Homo sapiens: one gene and its partner. The gene in region 1 interacts genetically with each later gene. Each region holds a gene or a part of one and is shown in the gene's direction. Other genes may lie near its edges.

Region 1 (8,582 bases):
AATGCATATCATTATGTAAACCTACGTAATAGTTGAATATTCACAAAGATAATCGCTTATAGAAGTTTTATATCCTCTCTTCTTTGGCAGTGCAATTAAAACAAAAAAAATAAGTTTTATGTCTTGTTTACATGTAAATAATTTTAATCTAAATTGTGACGTGGTTTTCACTTTAGCATATTTTTGAAAGTAAATCAAAAAGGACAAAATACAAAATCATGTATATCTTCTACAAAAACGATATATAAATTCTAAGGTTTTTGTCCTTTTGAAATTGCTTAAAAGAATGCATAGAACTGGTGTCTGAGTTGGGAAGGATCTATGAGGGATTTCCTTGGAGACTGTGGGTGAATAATAATGTTGTCTTAGTTCCATGAAGGAATCTCTGGGGATAGTTTTTGAGTTAGGCCTGGCAATGTTAGAGATACATAAAGAGAGCCTTGTTTTATCACTGGGTGCGGTGGCTCACACCTGTAATTCCAGCACTTTGGGAGGCTGAGGCGGGCAGATCATGAGGTCAGGAGATCGAGACCATCCTGGCCAACACGGTGAAACCCGTGTCTACTAAAAATACAAAAATTAGCTGGGCGTGGTGGCGCATGCCTATAATCCCAGCTACTCGGGAGGCTGAGGCAGGAGAATCACTTGAACCAGGGAGTTGGAGGTTGCAGTGAGCCGAGATCGCGCCACTGCACTCCAGCCTGGGTGACAGAGCAAGACTCCGTCTCAAAAAAAAAAAGCTTGGTTTTCAATGGTTCTGAAAAATGCTTTAATACAAGTGTAGAGTGTTAGTCAAGTTTTGCACTTGGATAAACAGCCTGTGAATTTATCACATTTCTAGTTTATAATATGGGCTTTCAGAAGTTATATGAACATTGTTTTGACGGGAGAATTCAAGCTGGATGCTAGAGAAGGATCGTGAGAACCCCTTCATTGGAGGAGTGCTATGAAATTATTTGATCTTGGAATTTTTTTTTTTTTTTTTTTTTTTTTTTTTGAGACAGAGTTTCGTTCTTATTGCCCAGGCTGGAGCTGGAATGCAGTGGCACGATCTCGGCTCACTGCAACCTCTGCCTCCTGGGTTCAAGCAATTCTTCTGCCTCAGCCTACCAGGTAGCTGGGATTACAGGCATGCGCAACCATGCCCAGCTAATTTTTGTATTTTTAATGGAGACGGGGTTTCACCATGTTGGTCAGGCTGGTCTTGAACTCCTGACCTCAAGTGAACTGCCTGCCTCAGCCTCCCAAAGTGTTGGGATTACAGGTGTGAGCCACTGCGCCTGGCCTGATCTTAGAATTTGAAGGAGAGACTAATATTTCATGGGCAAAAACAATGAAAAGTTACCTTTCTGTATTCTAATACTATAGAGGAGTGGGATTTATTTAGAATGTTTTAAGTATCTTGGGCAGTCCAAGAGTGCGTATCACTTATTTTTCTTTTCCTTCTTTCTTTTTAAGTGGAAGTTCACTGATGTTAGAGATCATAGGTGGCATTGCCTACTTTTTACATAATTTTATCATGTTTAGTGATCTGTCAGAAGGGCTGTGGCTGTTTGCAGTTTTGGCTTAAGCCATGCATGGGCTTTATAGGAGATGTAGTCTTCACAGTGAGTTGTTATTTGTAGCTGTGTTTTTGTTTTTGTATAGCTTATAGCAATGCAGTGTGCTTTTTATTAACATCATTTTCTTTTTCTTTTTGCAGTGATTATTTATTCAAGTTACTTCTGATTGGCGACTCAGGGGTTGGAAAGTCTTGCCTTCTTCTTAGGTTTGCAGTAAGTTGAAATTGAAATGTCTTTACAATTAATGGTACAATTAATGCTATGTATGTTTTCTAGGTAGATAAAATTAAACAGTTTTATTCAGAATAAGTTAATTCTTCCAGAATTTATATATTTAAAGACTCCAAATATACATCCCCAGTGGTATCTTGGACTGTTAAATAGAAAAATATTGTTGCTCTTAAAAGAAATTCAGTGAAGTATGGTTATAAAGTCAGAATGTCTAATACTTTTGGTCAGAGTCAAACAGCAGTTCCAATATAGGCAGCAAGTTAAAGGGGTAGTTGGTGGCCTGTGTTGAAAGCGACTTGATGAAAATAAATCTTTAAATTAAACTTTAGTAGAATAAGAAGAAAAAGCAGAGCCAGGTGACGCAGTGGATCATGCCTGCAGTCTCAGCTACTCAGGGTGCTGAGGGTGGAAGGATCACTTGAGTCTAGGAGTTTTGAGACCAACCTGGACAACATAGCATGACTCTGTCTCTGAAAAAAAAAGTTAATAAAAGAAAAAGTAGGGTCTTGGACAAACTTCGTTGGCCAATGGCATAGTTCTAAATGCTGAAGCTGACAGATAAAGGACTTTTGACTTAACAGAATCCACAGTGTCCTTCATAGTCTTTATCAACTACCTTTAAATTTAGCATGTTTCCTGGCCAGGTGCGGTGGCTCACGCCTGTAATCCCAGCACTTTGGGAGGCCGAGACGGGCGGATCACAAGGTCAAGAGATCGAGACCATCCTGGCTAACACGGTGAAACCCCGTCTCTACTAAAAATACAAAAAATTAGCTGGGTGTGGTGCCACACGCCTGTAGTCCCAGCTACTCGGGAGGCTGAGGCAGGAGAATCGCTTGAACCCAGGAGGCGGAGGTTGCAGTGAGCTGAGATGGTGCCACTGCACTCCAGCCTGGCAACAGAGCAAGACTGTCTCAAAAAAAAAAGAAAAAAAATAAAAAAACAAATTAGCATGTTTCCCTTCTAGAGATCATTGTTTCTCAGAGCATGGACCAAAGACTCCTGGGGGTTACCAAGACCCTCTCAGGTAGCCCATGAGGTCAAAATATCCTAATAATACTAAGATGTTAGTATTTGTAAGGAAATATTTACTTGGTAATAATACTAATATAAAAGATGTTTGCGTTTTTCAGTGATGACATTGGCTCTGGTACAAAAGCATGTGGGTAAAATTGCTGCTGGCTTGGTACACATCAAGGCAGCGCTAAGCTCCAAATTGTACTCATGGTGATGGCATTCTTTACCTCTGTGCCCTCACAGGAACAAAAACAAGCCGTGCCATTTTTATTGAAGATTGTCCTTGACAAAACAGTTAAAATGATTAATTTTTGAAAAATGTTGATCCATGAGTATTCCTTTAAAAATATTTGTGAAGAAATGGGAAGTTCACATAAAACAATGTTTTTTTTTTTTTTTGAGACAGATTCTGGCTGTGTTGCCAAGGCTAGAGTGCAGTGGCGTCTGGCTCCCAGGCTCAAGCTGTTCTCCCACTTCAGCCTCCCAAGTGGCTGGGACCTCCCAAGTGGATGCGCCATCATGCCTGGCTGATTTTTGTATTTTTTTGTAGTGACAAGGTCTCACTGTGTTGCACAGGCTGCTCTCAAACTTCTGAGCTCAAGCGATGCATGTGCCTCAGCCTCCCAAAGTGCTGGAGAAAGCACTTTTTACTGCATACTGGCTAGTGTGTTGGTTATTTTGGAGAAAAGAAAAGCATTTGTAGTTTTTTGAGTTGTAAGCTGAGCTAACTGCTTTATTTTTTTCTGTGGAACACCATTTCTTTTTTTTTTTTTGAGATGGAATATTGCTTTGTTGCCCAGGCTGGAGTGCAGTGGCACAATCTCGGCTCACTGCAACCTCCGCTTCTCGGGTTCAAGCAATTCTTCTGCCGTAGCCTCCCAAGTAGCTGGGATTATAGGCACCTGCCACCAAGCCCAGCTAGTTTTTGTATTTTTAGTAGAGATGGGGTTTCACCATGTTGGCCAGGCTGGTCTCGAACTCCTGACTTCGTGATCCGCTTGTCTCAGCCTCCCAAAGTGCTGGGATTACAGGCGTGAACTACTGCACCTGGACATTTTTTTTTTTTTTTTTAACTTGAAAGAACAGCTAACAGACAGATTAGAACAGAATTGGCTATTTGACAGATTTTCTCAGATGAACTGTGATAGTCATTTCAAGGGAAGTAGCTGCAAGCATTTGTTGGCTGAAATAAAATTTAAGTTTATCATGGAAAATTAGAATTTGAAAAAACTTAGAGTTTACCACTTGACAGTATCCTAAATACATATGACTTTTCTGATGAGTGCCGATATTAATGAAGGTTATTTAAAAAATATTAAATAATGTATAATTCTTTTTATATAACAGTTAAAAATAAAACCATGAGTACTAGAATAAAACATAGGTGGCTCTTTAATCTTGGTTTGTGAAGGTATTTTTTAAAATAAGAAAAAAGCAAGAAATCACTGCTAAATTTGACTATTAAAATTAATTTATCACAGGCACAAAAATGTTAGAAAACTAATGGCAATAGCAAATATATATATATGAGGATTGGTATTCTCAACATATAAAGCACATTTGCACATCAACAAGAAAAGAATATTTCTCCTAATGGAAATAGTGGCAAATACATGAGCAGTCAGTTGAAAAAAGAAGTAATACAAATTGCTGGCTGGGTGTGGTGGGTCACGCCTGTAATCCCAGCATTTAGAGGCTGAGGCTGGCGGATCATCTGAGGTCAGGAGTTCGAGACCAGCCTGACCAACATGGAGAAACCCTGTCTCTACTAAAAATACAAAATTAGCCGGATGTGGTGGCGCATGCCTGTAATCCCAGCTACTTGGGAGGCTGAGGCAGGAGAATTGCTTGAACCCAGGAGGCGGAGGTTGTGGTGAGTCGAGATCGCACCATTGCACTCCAGCCTGGGCAACAAGAGCGAAACTCCATCTCAAAAAAAAAAAAAAAAAAAAAAAAGGAAGTAATACAAATTGCCAATAAATATGGAAAAAAAAAAAGGCTCAACTTTATTTGTAATTAAAGGCCTTTAAGTTAAACTTAGGTGTCATTTAATTTTTATTAAATTGGCAAATATTAAAATTAAGCATAATTCTTAAGCAACTCTCGGTAGGTGGGAAGAATCTAGCTGTAGCCTCAGGCGTTTGTGCCTCAAGGAAAACCCTCTCTGGGATGTCCATTGCTTGAAGTCAAAGGTTTTCCAATAATACCTGGAAACTATTTTTAAAATGCTGATCCCCATACCCTCAAAATATTAATAGAGACAATCGTGAGGACTATAATAAAGAAATGTGCAATAAGCTCTGGGGGCACAGAGGGAAGAATCTATTGGCTGAGGAGTTGAAGAAATTGTTTGGACACTCAGTATTGCCTGAGCTCAAAACTGAAGGATGAATAAATGCCACATGACCTTGGGGCTGGGGAGTAAGTAGGGTTATGCAGAGAGAGATAACTGAGGCTTTTGGGCAGACGAATAGTAACGGCTCAGGCATGGGAGTAAAGGTCATTTAGAGATTTACAAGAATTCAGCATTTCTTTCTTTTTCTTTTTTTTTTTGAGATGGAGTCTAGCTCTGTCATCCAGGCTGGAGTACAGTGGCATGATCTCAGCTCACTATAACTCCCACCTCCCGGGTTCAAGTGATTCTCATGCCTCAGCCTCCCGAGTAGCTGGTATTACAGGCGTGTACTACTGTGCCTGGCTAATTTTTGTATTTTTAGTAGAGATGGGGTTTCACCATGTTGGTCAGGCTGGTCTCCAACTCCTGAGCTCAAGTGATATGTGCACCTCTGCTCCCCAAAGTGCTGGGATTACAGGCGTGAGCCACTGTACCCGGCCAAGAATTCAGTATTTCTATCCAAGTACCTGGGGGATAGATGTGCTACATGAATATTTATTGCATTCATTTTGTTCTCTGCATTTTTTTTTTTTTTTTTTTGGTTTGAGATGGAGTCTCGCTCTGTCGCCCAGGCTGGAGTGCAGTCGTGCAATCTCGGCTCACTGCAGCCTCCACCTCATGGGTTCAAGCGATTCTCCATCTTGGTCTCCTGACTAGCTAGGTTTACAGGCGTGTGCCATCACACCCACTAATTTTTTGTATTTTTAGTAGAGACAGGGTTTCACCATGTTGGCCAGGCTGGTCTTGAACTCCTGATCTAAAGTGAGCCTCCCACCTTGGCCTCCCAAAGTGCTGGGATTACATATGTGAGCCACTGCGCCTGGCCTCTATATACTTCTATAGTACCTGATACTTATTAGGCACTCAATTACAACATAACTTTTTTTTTTTTTTTTTTTTTTTGAGACAGAGACATGCCTTGTCGCCTGGGCTGGAGTGCAGTGGCACAGTCTCGGCTCACTGCAACCTTCACCTCCCGGGTTCAAGTGATTCTCCTTCCTCAGCCTCCCGGGTAGCTGGGATTACAGGCGCCCGCCACCACGTCCAGCTAATTTTTTGTATTTTTAATAGAGATGAGGTTTCACCATCTTGGCCAGGCTGATCTCAAACTCCTGACCTTGTGATCCACTCACCTTGGCCTCCCAAAGTGCTGGTATTACAGGTGTGAGCCATCATGCCCGGCCCATATTTCTAAAAACATTTTCTTATAAAATGACATTGCCATTATCAACCTGCAAAATACAGTTTCCATTTGGTTGTTTTCTTGCTTAGTCTTTTAATCTAGAGTTTTATACCTTATCTTTTTTATTTATATATTTTTTATGTCATTGACTTTTTGCAGAAACTGAAGCACTTGTCCTGTAGATTGTCCAATATTCTAGATTTGTCATTTTGCTTCCTTGTGATGTCCTTATGCTTATTTGTTTGTCCCTCTTTCTGTAATTAGAAGACCTAGAACTGCACTATCCTTAGAGTAGCTACTAGCTCTATGTAGCTATTTAAATTTAAATTAATTAAAATTGAAAAAGTTTGGTGGCTCACACCTGTAATCCCAGCACTTTGGGAGGCCAAGGTGGGAGGATTGCTTGAGTGCAGGAGTTCAAGGCTTCAGTAAGCTACGATTGTACTCTAGCCTGGGAGACATCAAGACCCTGTCCCTTTAAGGGGGAAAAATAATTGAAAAAATCAAAAACTTAGTTTCTTGTTTCACAAGCTGCATAGGGCTAATGGCTACCATATTGGCTAGCACAGCTTATAGAACCTTTCCATTGTCACAGGAAGTTCTGTTTGGCAGTGCCGTTCTCATTAGACCTGATTCGATTAAGGTCCATCTTTGTTGACAGAGTACTTCTTAGGTGGTGCTTTGTGGTTCATATGATGATAGCCTGGTCTGTTCATTCATATATCTTTTCACGAGAAATATTTTTATTCCATTCTGAATAAAATTTCATGGCAGGTACTTGCAAGAAGCAGTTATAATTTTAAAAGTTTAACATTAGGTTAAAAAATTGACAGGAAACATATATTCACAGGAAAACTTGTACACAAATGTTCATGGCAGCATTATTCATAATAGCCAAGAAGTGGAAACAACCCAAATCAATTTATGAATGGATAAAATGTTGTATATTTGTAGTACATGTAATATTATTCAGCCAATAAAATGGGCCAGGCATGGTGGCTCACACCTGTAATCCCAGCACTTTGAGAGGCTCAGGCAGGGGGATCACTAGAGGTCAGGAGTTTGAGACCAGCCTGACCATCATCACGAAACCCTGTCTCTACTAAACGTACAAAAATTAGGCAGGCGTGGTGATGCACGCCTGTAGTCCCTACTACTCAGGTGGCTGAGTCATGAGGATTGCTTGGACCCCGGGAGACAGAGGTTGCAGTGAGCTGAGATCATGACACTGCACTCCAGCATGGGCAACAGAGCAACATCCTGCCTCAAAAAAAAAAAAAAAAAGAAGTACTGTTACATGGTACAACATGGATGAACCTTGAAAACATTCTGCTAAATGAAGGAAGACAGACACAGAGGGCCACATATTTTATGATTCCATTTATACGAAATGTCCAAAATTGGCAAATCTAAAGAGAAAGTAGATTAGTGGTTGCCAGGGAGTGAAGACGGGTTCTTTCTGGAGTGAAGAAAATGTCCTGGAATTCGTGGTTGTAGTTTGCAACCTTGTGAATGTATAAGGACCACTGAATTGTCCACTTCAAAAGGGTGACTTTTATGTTATGTGCATTATATCTAAAAAAAAAAATCATAATTAGGAAGCAAGATTGACTTCTAAGAAAAAGCGGAGTGAAATTGTTGTTTTGTGGTGAATAAATTGGGTGGGTGGGTCGCAAGAGTTTTGCTGATTAGTGATTAGAAAAATTATTCATAATCATTGAAAATATAAAATATTTTTCTATATGATGTATGTAAAGAATTTGGCAAGAGATGATGTTTGGAAAAAATAAAGAATGGCTATTGTAGAGATCTTAAGGAAAGAAACTACAGTTAAGTAGTGCTTTGTAATCAGAATATGAAGTAAGTACTGAAAGTGGATGGAGTGGCTGTTGTCAGCATGTTATACTTTATACATTTCATTCATAAATTTGGACTGTAGATAAAAGTAAACTTTTTTTTTATTTACTCTTGAACAACAGTTTTTTTTTTTCCACTTAGACTTGCATCTGCTCCACTGAACAATACATTTAATTGTTAATTATTTCCCCCTTCAGGATGATACATATACAGAAAGCTACATCAGCACAATTGGTGTGGATTTCAAAATAAGAACTATAGAGTTAGACGGGAAAACAATCAAGCTTCAAATAGTAAGTGACTTGGCTAGTAATTTTTTTGAAATTTATTTTGGTAA
Region 2 (8,827 bases), on another chromosome or scaffold:
TTTTACTCTTGTTGCCCAGGCTGGAGTGCAGTGGTGCGATCTTGGCTCACTGCAACCTTCACCTCCCAGGTTCAAGCGATTTTCCTGCCTCAGCCTCCCAGCAGCTGGGACTATTGGCATGCGCCACCACGCTGACTAATTTTTGTATTTTTAGTAGAGATGGGGTTTCACCATGTTGGCCAGGCTGGTCTCGAACTCCTGACCTCAAATGATCTGCCCACCTCGGCCTCCCAAAGTGCTGGGATTAGGATTTGATGGCGTGAGCCACTGTGCCTGGCTGATAGCCTTTCAAAAATGATGCTGGAGTAATTGGACATCCATAGGCAACCTAACCTAAGCCTCACACTTACATAAAAGTTAATGCAAAATTGATCATGGACTTAAATGCAAAACATAAAACTATAAAACTTTTAGGGAAAAAAACTTAGGAGAAAATATTCAGGATCTGGAGCTACATAAAGGTTTCTTATACTTGACATCGAAAGCACAATTTACAAAAGGAAAAATTGATGTTAGACTTCATTAAAATGAAACTTTTGTTCTGCAAAAGATCCTGTTAGGAGCATGAAAGACAAGCCATATACAGGGAGAAAATACGTGCAAATCACACATCTGACAAAGCAGAATATATATCTAGAGTATAATAGAAAACAAGAAAACAAACAAATGGACAAAAGCACTTGAATAGATACTTCTACAAAGACAACATACAAATGGCCAATAAACACACAAAAAGATGTTCAGCATCATTAATCATTAGGGAAATGCAAATTAAAACTGCAATGAGATACCACTTCACACCCATTAGGATGATTATAATAATAAAATAAAAACTCCCAGAACATAACAAGTGTTGATGAGGATGTGGAGAAATTAAAACTCTTGTTCACTGCTGGTGGTAAGGTAACATGGTGCAGCTGCTATGGAAAGCAGTACAGTAGTTGCTCAAAAAATTAAACATAGAATCACCATATGATCCAGCAATTCTACATCTGGGTACATAGTCAAAAAGAATTGAAAGCAGGGTCTCAGAGACCTGTTACGAACCATGGGTATTTGTATATGGGTATTTGTACACCCATAGTTCATGACAGTATTATTTGCAGTAGCCAAAAGGTGGAAGTTATCTTGTGTTCTATCAATATATGAATGGATATCAACAGATGAATGAACAAAATATACATAAAATGGAATATTATTCAGCCTTAAAAAGGAACAAGTCTGATATATGCTACAACATGAATGAACCTTGAGGATGTTATGCTGCATAAAATATTAGCAAAATAAATCCAGTTCTGAACAAATACGTATAAGACTTATATGAGGTACCTAGAGTAGTGAAGTTCATAGAGGGAGAAAGTAGAATAATGGTTGCCAGGGGCTGCTGTGAGGAACAGTGGAATGGGGAGTCACAGTTTAATGTGATAGAATTTCCATCTTCTAAGATGAAAAGAGTTTTAGAGATCAGATGCACAACAATGTGAATGTAATTAACACTGCTGAACTGTATACTTAAAAATGATCGAGAGGTAAATTTTATGTTACGTATATTTTATAACAAACTTCTAAAAAAACTCAATAGTAAAAGAGCAAACAATCCAATTAGAAGATGAGCAAAAGATACGAAGAAATATTTCTTCGAAAACTGAACACACAACTACCTTAGGACCCATAATTGCACTCCTATTTGTCCCAAGACTTAAGTTCACATAAAAATCTATACATCAATACTTATATCTATTTAATATCCATTATATACTTATAGGTAGGAGTTACAACCACCACCATTTTTATAGATATAAAAAGTGCAGCTCAGAGAAGTTAATTGTTTACTCAGGATCACATATATACTAGGCAAGTAGTAGCATCATGACTCAATTCTAAGTCATGATTCCAAAGCTAAGAGTTTGAAGTTCCCATATGGTGGGTGGTCTTACAGTACTTTTAAAAAGTCAGAGCATAAAAGGGAAATTTCATCTTAGTTCATTAATCATTTTGCAACACTTACTTTGAATATCGAACCATTGGGGCACAGACTTTTACCAGCTGTCCAGAATGAAACATTTCTATGGGATCTTTTTTTCTTTCCTGACATATTGTCGTTTGCATGCAGTCACTCTTCATTAATACAGATATGTTTCAAATCTGAAAAAGACAATAAGCTTGTATAGAGAAAATATGTTTTCACTATATTAATTCCATTCTAACAATTTCAACTGCCAACAACATATATTTTTTATCAGGCTTGTGGGCTCAGAAATTTTTTTATTAATAGCTTATTTTCACAGTATCCAATATGATACTATAGAATGCTGCCTCTATTTGTAAGATAAATAGATGTGGAAAACTACCCAAGATAGTTGTGGAAACACAAGATGCAGAAAACGAGATTTTTTTTTTTTCCCTAGTTTACCATGTTGTAAGTTTTCATGTTATTTAAAAATTTTTTACATGTTACTTTGTTGGGATTGGTAAGCCAAGAAATTTGGTTTGAATTATTTTATATATGATACTCGACTGGCATTTGGAAATATCTTGTTTTATTCAGGAAAGTTAAATGGCATTAATAGAGCAACTCTTAAGTAGTCAGTGTTTCAAAAGATATGCTGGTGCTTTTATTGTAATTCTTGAATCCTGTTCTGTCTGTGAATCAGAAGATAAACAAACGTTAATTATTTTTAAAAATTTTAATGTGATATTATCTAGTGAAAATTTCAATTATAATTCTACAATTGCATTGTAAATCACTTTTATACCCCAAGAGGTACAGGTACGAGTGATGAAATTATGGAGTTTGTAAATGTTTTACATTTGCTATACTTAAAATCCTACTATTTCACAGTGTTGGCTACTTTTCATATTCCAGTCCTTGGCCTCAGTAACTTAGAAACAGGTATGTATGAAGGAAAAATGAAGCAGAAAATAACAACAACAAAAAAAAGAATCAGATATGGGCCAACTTTAGAATGGTCTAATTGCTCAAACTTTAGAGTCTTTAACCTTTAGGCAAGGAGTTGAAATTAAAAATAGCCAAGGTACTTAAGGATGTCAGGATCTTGCAAGAAACCGCTGGAAGCACCAATATTTAAGTAACAGAGGAAAAGGGGAGAGCAAAAGAGACTGAAGATGAACTTTGGAGCTGGGAGGAATAAACCTAAAGAGTGATACTCAGAAAACGAGAGAGACCATTATGAAGGAAGGAGGGGATAGGTATCTTAAACATCAAAGTAAGGCAAAAATAAAGCGCAATGGCAACAAGGTCATTAGTGATTTTAGCAAGAATTACTTCATTTTTATCCACTCCTGCAGTCATAGTAAATGGCATACAGAAGGCCTCAATATTTATTTGCTGAAAGAATAAATCAGTAGGTTTCAGGGGACTGGGCTCACACCTGTAAACTCAGCATTTTGGGAGGCCAAGGTGGGAGGCTTGCTTAAGGCCAGGAGTTTGAGACCAGCTTGGGCAATATAGTGAGACCCCCATCTCTAAAAAAATTATAAAAATCAGCTGGGCGTGGTAGCAAGCGACTGTGATCCCAACTACTCCAGAAGCTTGGGCAGGAGGATCCCTTGAGCCCAGGAGGTTGAGGCTGCAGTGAGCCACGATCCTGCCACTGCACTCCAGCCTGGGTAACAGAGCTAGACCCCAACTCAACAAAACAAAACAATCAGTAGCTTTCTACCTTAGTTGTACACTACAATGACCCGAGGAGCTTTTAAGAATTAGCATGCCCAAGCCATACCCTAGACCAATTAAATCCAAACGTCTGGGCTCAGGATGCAGGCATCAGTGTTTTTATTAAAGCTCTTCAGGTGATTTCAATGTGCAGCTAAGCTTGGAATTACTGGAATAAGTAAATCCAAAGATTCCAAAGCACCTGGTACAATTGTTTGTTTAAATGGGTTCCTACCTTACCTATTAACTCCTTTTAGAATATGGATTGAGTCTTATGTTTGTAAACTCATGAGAGCATGCAGAGTAGAGGGGTCAAAACTTTCGCTGTATGAATGAATATTACTCACTCTTCTAAAATCTTCCACTGGGGGGAATAAAGCCAAGGAAGGAAAAACAATTCCTAATTCACAAGTAATGAATGAATCACCCCTATTCCCATCATGACTAAGATCTTACATACTAGGGAAAATCCTCTGAGACAAAGAGAGCATAATGCAGTGTAGCATAAGACTTGCTTACCTGAGGTGTTATGAGTATGAAATGCATTGAGTTATAAAATACTTAGAACAGCGATAAGCACAGGATAAGTAATAGCACCTTTTTGAAACAGAATGTAGAAAACCACGTAGCTCTGGAACTGGATAAAATTGGTTTCCTGGATACATACCTACTGTACAAAATGAAAAAGTCATCTTCCAGCTTCTTTTTGCGAAGAAGCTTAAGACTGTCTTGCATACTTGTGGTTGCCTGACCCTGTTAATTTATCAGTATTTATCTTAGAAGAAAGAAATCTAGGTCAAAAACGCGAACGTATTAGTAAAGAAGATACAATGGGAACCAACCTGATGCTCTTACAGCGTCAATACTGTTAGTTGAGATGTGGACCATCTATCAGTTTGTAATTAAGAAAAAGTCTGGCACGTGACTGAAACTGAGGAAGAAGTAGAAAAGGCAAAAGGTCAAAGGTCTCATGGGAAGGAAGGAGGGTAGAGACAGTGAGTTTTATTGGTCCTTTTATGGTTCAGACTTCCTTCTTCATCGACTCTCCCTAATTCTCTTCACTGTTCATCCCCAGCAACTTTTCTTCCCAAGCATTTCCTGCGGGCTTTTATTACCCCAGGAGTGCCAATCAAGGCGTGGAACAGATAAAGCTGTGTAGCAACTAACGCGTGACTCTTGTGAGTGTGGAGGGCAAACGAAGCTCCCTGAAACCTCCGCTCTGCTCTCCTGCCTTACGCCGCGCGGCCCCTGTTCTGAGGTTTAATACTTGCTTCACAGATAAGCGCTGCGGCCACGTTCCGGTGCCCACCTTCTCCTTGGCTAGGGCACGACGCCAGCCCAGGGGGCGCGGCCCTGAGCTGCTGCGAGAGACAGCTGAAAGCGCCGGCCCGACGGCCTTGGCTCCCTCGGTGCGCTGGGCGCAGAGCACTCGGACCCTGGGCGCCCACTGCTCGAGTACCTGCGCGGCTCCTAGCCAGGCTTAGCCCAGGCGCGGGCTGAGAGTCAGTTCGCCAGGTGGGCCTGGAGCCATGGGCTGGGTGGGCGGGCGGCGCCGGGATTCTGCGTCACCACCTGGGCGGAGCCGTTCTGCTGCTGACGACATCAACCCGGCACCTGCCAACATGGAAGGTGGCGGCGGCAGCGTCGCTGTAGCTGGCCTCGGAGCTCGAGGCTCTGGAGCGGCTGCAGCTACAGTCCGGGAACTTCTGCAGGACGGTAAGGAGACGGGGTCTGACCAGGTCGTGGGGTTGGGGGTCTGCGCTGCTCCGCACCTGGACAGCGAGGTGGACCCAACCCGTTGCTTTGCAGAAAGTTTTCCAGTCTGGACGTGACCACTCCCCTCCGCCCGGCCCCCTGGCTTGGGTACTGTTCTAGCCAACCTATTTACTCTGGGACTGGCTCCCTCTTTTCTGGAGTCTTGGGGACACTTGGTTTCTGTGTGTTCCTCATTTCAACTCGACCCCCCCCCCCCCCATGCCTCCAGCTTCCCTGAAGTTTCGGGAGCCCAAACCCTGTGGACCGCGTTGGCAGCCACCGGCTGCTGCCGCAGTTCTTGACGAAGGGGTGTAGCGTTCGAGCTCTTCAAAAGTGTAAGCTCTAGAACAGACGGCAGACGCATAATGAAATAGGGCCTTGTTTTAAAGTAGAGCTGGAAACGCTTACTCCTTTAACAAATGGACTGTACAGGTGACCCCTCTTACAGGCTGGTTTTTTTTTTCCTCCTTTATGAGGCAGTTATCTACAGTGACACGTGGGGGAGGGTTTGAGACATTTGTTCAGGTTGGGATTAACCATTTGTACAGAATCTAGCAGTCAGATTTTATTGCTAGTCAGTTTGGAGAGAAGTTGCCCAAAATAAGAAAAGTTAGATATAATATACTTGAAAAGCATATTCAGTTGTGTCAATCCAGTTACCATGTCCCGAATCTCTTATCCTTCAGAATAAAGTTCACATTTATAAGCATAAAAATAAAGCCCTTCTCACCTGTTCTTAATTTTTTCTCTAGTGGCCATCGCATTCTACCTTGTACTAAAATCATTTGTATACTTGTTTTAATCTCTTCTGTATTGCAAACTTTTTTTAATATCCCACAGTGTGAATAGCAGTATCTTGCATACAGTAGGTGCAGAATGTTTTTTAAATTCATCATCGCAGTTAGAAGCACATGCACACATTTGAAGACCGAAGTGGGTAATAAATGAAATAAAGTTCCAAATTATTGTTTATTTTCTCTGACTGTTAAATATTTTATTGTCATCCTGAATTACGTGCCTTTTCATGATAATTTATGTACTTTTGTCAAAAGCAATGATGTTTTCTGAACTATTTCATGTTGGAAACTCTAGGACCGGGTCTCTGTCTAAAACTTGGCTAAACTGAATTTAAACTTTAGATACAAGGCAGAGACCCTGATATATTTGCAGTTGCTCCTGATACACGTGCAATTTTTGCCCTCAAGTAGTTCACCATCTAGTAGAGGAAATAATCTTGTAGACTATAAAGGTAGGTGCTGTAATATAGTGATGTAAGATAGCAGTAGGATTGCATATAAAGTAGAGCATTAATACAGAGGAGAATGATAACTGGGGGTTGGAAACTGGTTAGGAAATGTCAGAAAAGGCTTTCTAGGTGGAGACGTTTTAAACTGTAGACAGGACTTCCCCAGGTGAACAGTGGAACATTGGATATATGTTTCAGTAGGATGTATTTCAGGAATTGTAATCAGTTCTTGGACGGTAAATACTCTTCAGTTCTGCCTTCTGTATTTTCCTCCTTGGTTCTCTGCCATTCTCCACAGTGATTGTTTAAATCTTCTTTACCCTTTTCAAACCTTTCGCTTCAAGCTCAACAAATGACTTTAAGCTTCCCTGGGGAGAAAAAGAGGATCCATCAGATGTGAACTTTCTCCATTTCTTGCCCATCAAACCTATGAATTTAACCTCAACGTATAACCATCTGTTGCACCTTTTTTCCCTTGCCTTTTCAATTGCAACGGAAGTGGAGCCTCTGCTCCTTTCTTTCTTTCTTTCTTTTTTTTTTTTGAGACGGAGTCTCGCGCTGTTGCCCAGGCTGGAGTGCAGTGGCGCAGTCTCGGCTCACTGCAAGCTCTGCCTCCGGGGTTCACGCCATTCTCCTGGCTCAGCCTCCTGAGAAGCTGGGACTACAAGCGCCCATCACTATGCCTAGCTAATTTTTTGTATTTTTAGTAGAGACGGGGTTTCACCGTGTTAGCCAGGATGGTCTCGATCTCCTGACCTCGTGATCTGCCTGCCTTGGCCTCCCAGAGTGCTGGGATTACAGGCGTGAGCCACCACGCCCGGCCGAGTCTCTGCTCCGTTCTAAGGATAGTGCCTCCTACTTTGCTCTGGATTTTTTCTTCCTGTTTCCTGGGGACTCAGTCACCCTCAATCTATGCCATTGAAGTAACTTTGCAAGGTTTTCAATGACTTTCTTGCACATACGACAAATGGACACTTTTTTGGTCCTTTAACTTGTAATAACATTTGATTCCTTTCTTGAAATACTTTCCTCATGCGGTTTATGGGTGCCGTGCTTTTTAAAAATTCTTAATTCTCTAGGTGCTCTTTTCCAGGTTCCTGTAGATACTTGTCAGTTCAGTTTGTTCTGAATTAAGCGGTCTCTGTTGCCCCTCCACCCCCAACATTCCTGAGGAATTAAGCATTTCCAGCAGAAACTTTGATTCACTATATCGGGGATTTGGCCAATGACAGAGTATCGGATTGATAGGCTTGGTGAGCACAGATGCATAGTATGAAAATTGGTGAGGTGTTTCTGATATGCCCTCTATGGGAATGAGGAAACTATAAAAGAGAAGCATTATATAATTCATCTCTTTAAAGGCTGTCAGCCCTCAAATGCCACATCCCGTTGTGTTTGATCTTTGTAAGCTCTATGACAATACTAATACTTACTTTCTTTATCCCTTCTTTTGGCTTTTGCCATTCTTTTTTGTTTCTCTTTCTCCCTGAGCACTCTTTAGTCTCTTTGATTGCTTTCATTTTCTCTGTCCACCCCCCACTTTCCTATCTTCCTCATTTTCCTGCCTTTTTGTGCATTCTAAAACTTTTTTTTCCTAAATCATCTGGTCTTGTCTGTGGTTTCAGTATGCTCCTTACCTGTCTTCTGAATTATAAAACTATATTTTTAACTGCCTACTGGACATTTCTATCTTAATTTTTTTATGATATGCCATTCCATAACCTGTATGGACATTTCTATTTTGATAGTAAACAAGCAGTGCTAGTTCTATAATACACATGAAAACCTACATATGAACAAATAGTACAAGGTTTACATATGAAAAAATGAAATGAATTCACTTTTTCTGTTCTTCTCTCCTAATCTTTTCCTCTGGTAGTTTCTGTTATCTGTGTTTACTATGTTGTTAGGTAAATGTGTGCTTGTTCCCCTTGTAAATTATGAATTCCTTGGAGGCAGAAGTTTATGTTCATCTTGGTATATTCAGTGTCTAGTGGTCTAAGTTAGTGTAAAACTAAATTTCCTGTATCAGTTGCTTAATCCAGAAATTTGGGAATCCTTGTTTGTTCTACCTAATCACCCATTTTCAGCTTGTCACTAAGTCCTACATCCTGTGCAGTGTGAATATTTGTCAAATTTGTCACTTTGAC

Evidence for each region.
Region 2: changes in RAB1A (region 1) and COG5 are lethal when combined (synthetic lethality), as found in Homo sapiens cells (one study listed by BioGRID).

What each region holds. Positions count from the first base shown.
Region 1 is NC_000002.12:65,097,927-65,106,508, reverse strand, and holds part of RAB1A (ras-related protein Rab-1A), read left to right. Parts: intron 1-1,702; coding exon 1,703-1,775; intron 1,776-8,442; coding exon 8,443-8,538; intron 8,539-8,582. UniProt on the Homo sapiens protein: The small GTPases Rab are key regulators of intracellular membrane trafficking, from the formation of transport vesicles to their fusion with membranes.
Region 2 is NC_000007.14:107,560,368-107,569,194, reverse strand, and holds the start of COG5 (conserved oligomeric Golgi complex subunit 5), read left to right. Parts: upstream 1-5,274; 5' UTR 5,275-5,298; coding exon 5,299-5,392; intron 5,393-8,827. Other genes in the region: DUS4L (tRNA-dihydrouridine(20a/20b) synthase [NAD(P)+]-like), read right to left, coding at 2,009-2,124; DUS4L-BCAP29 protein, read right to left, coding at 2,009-2,124.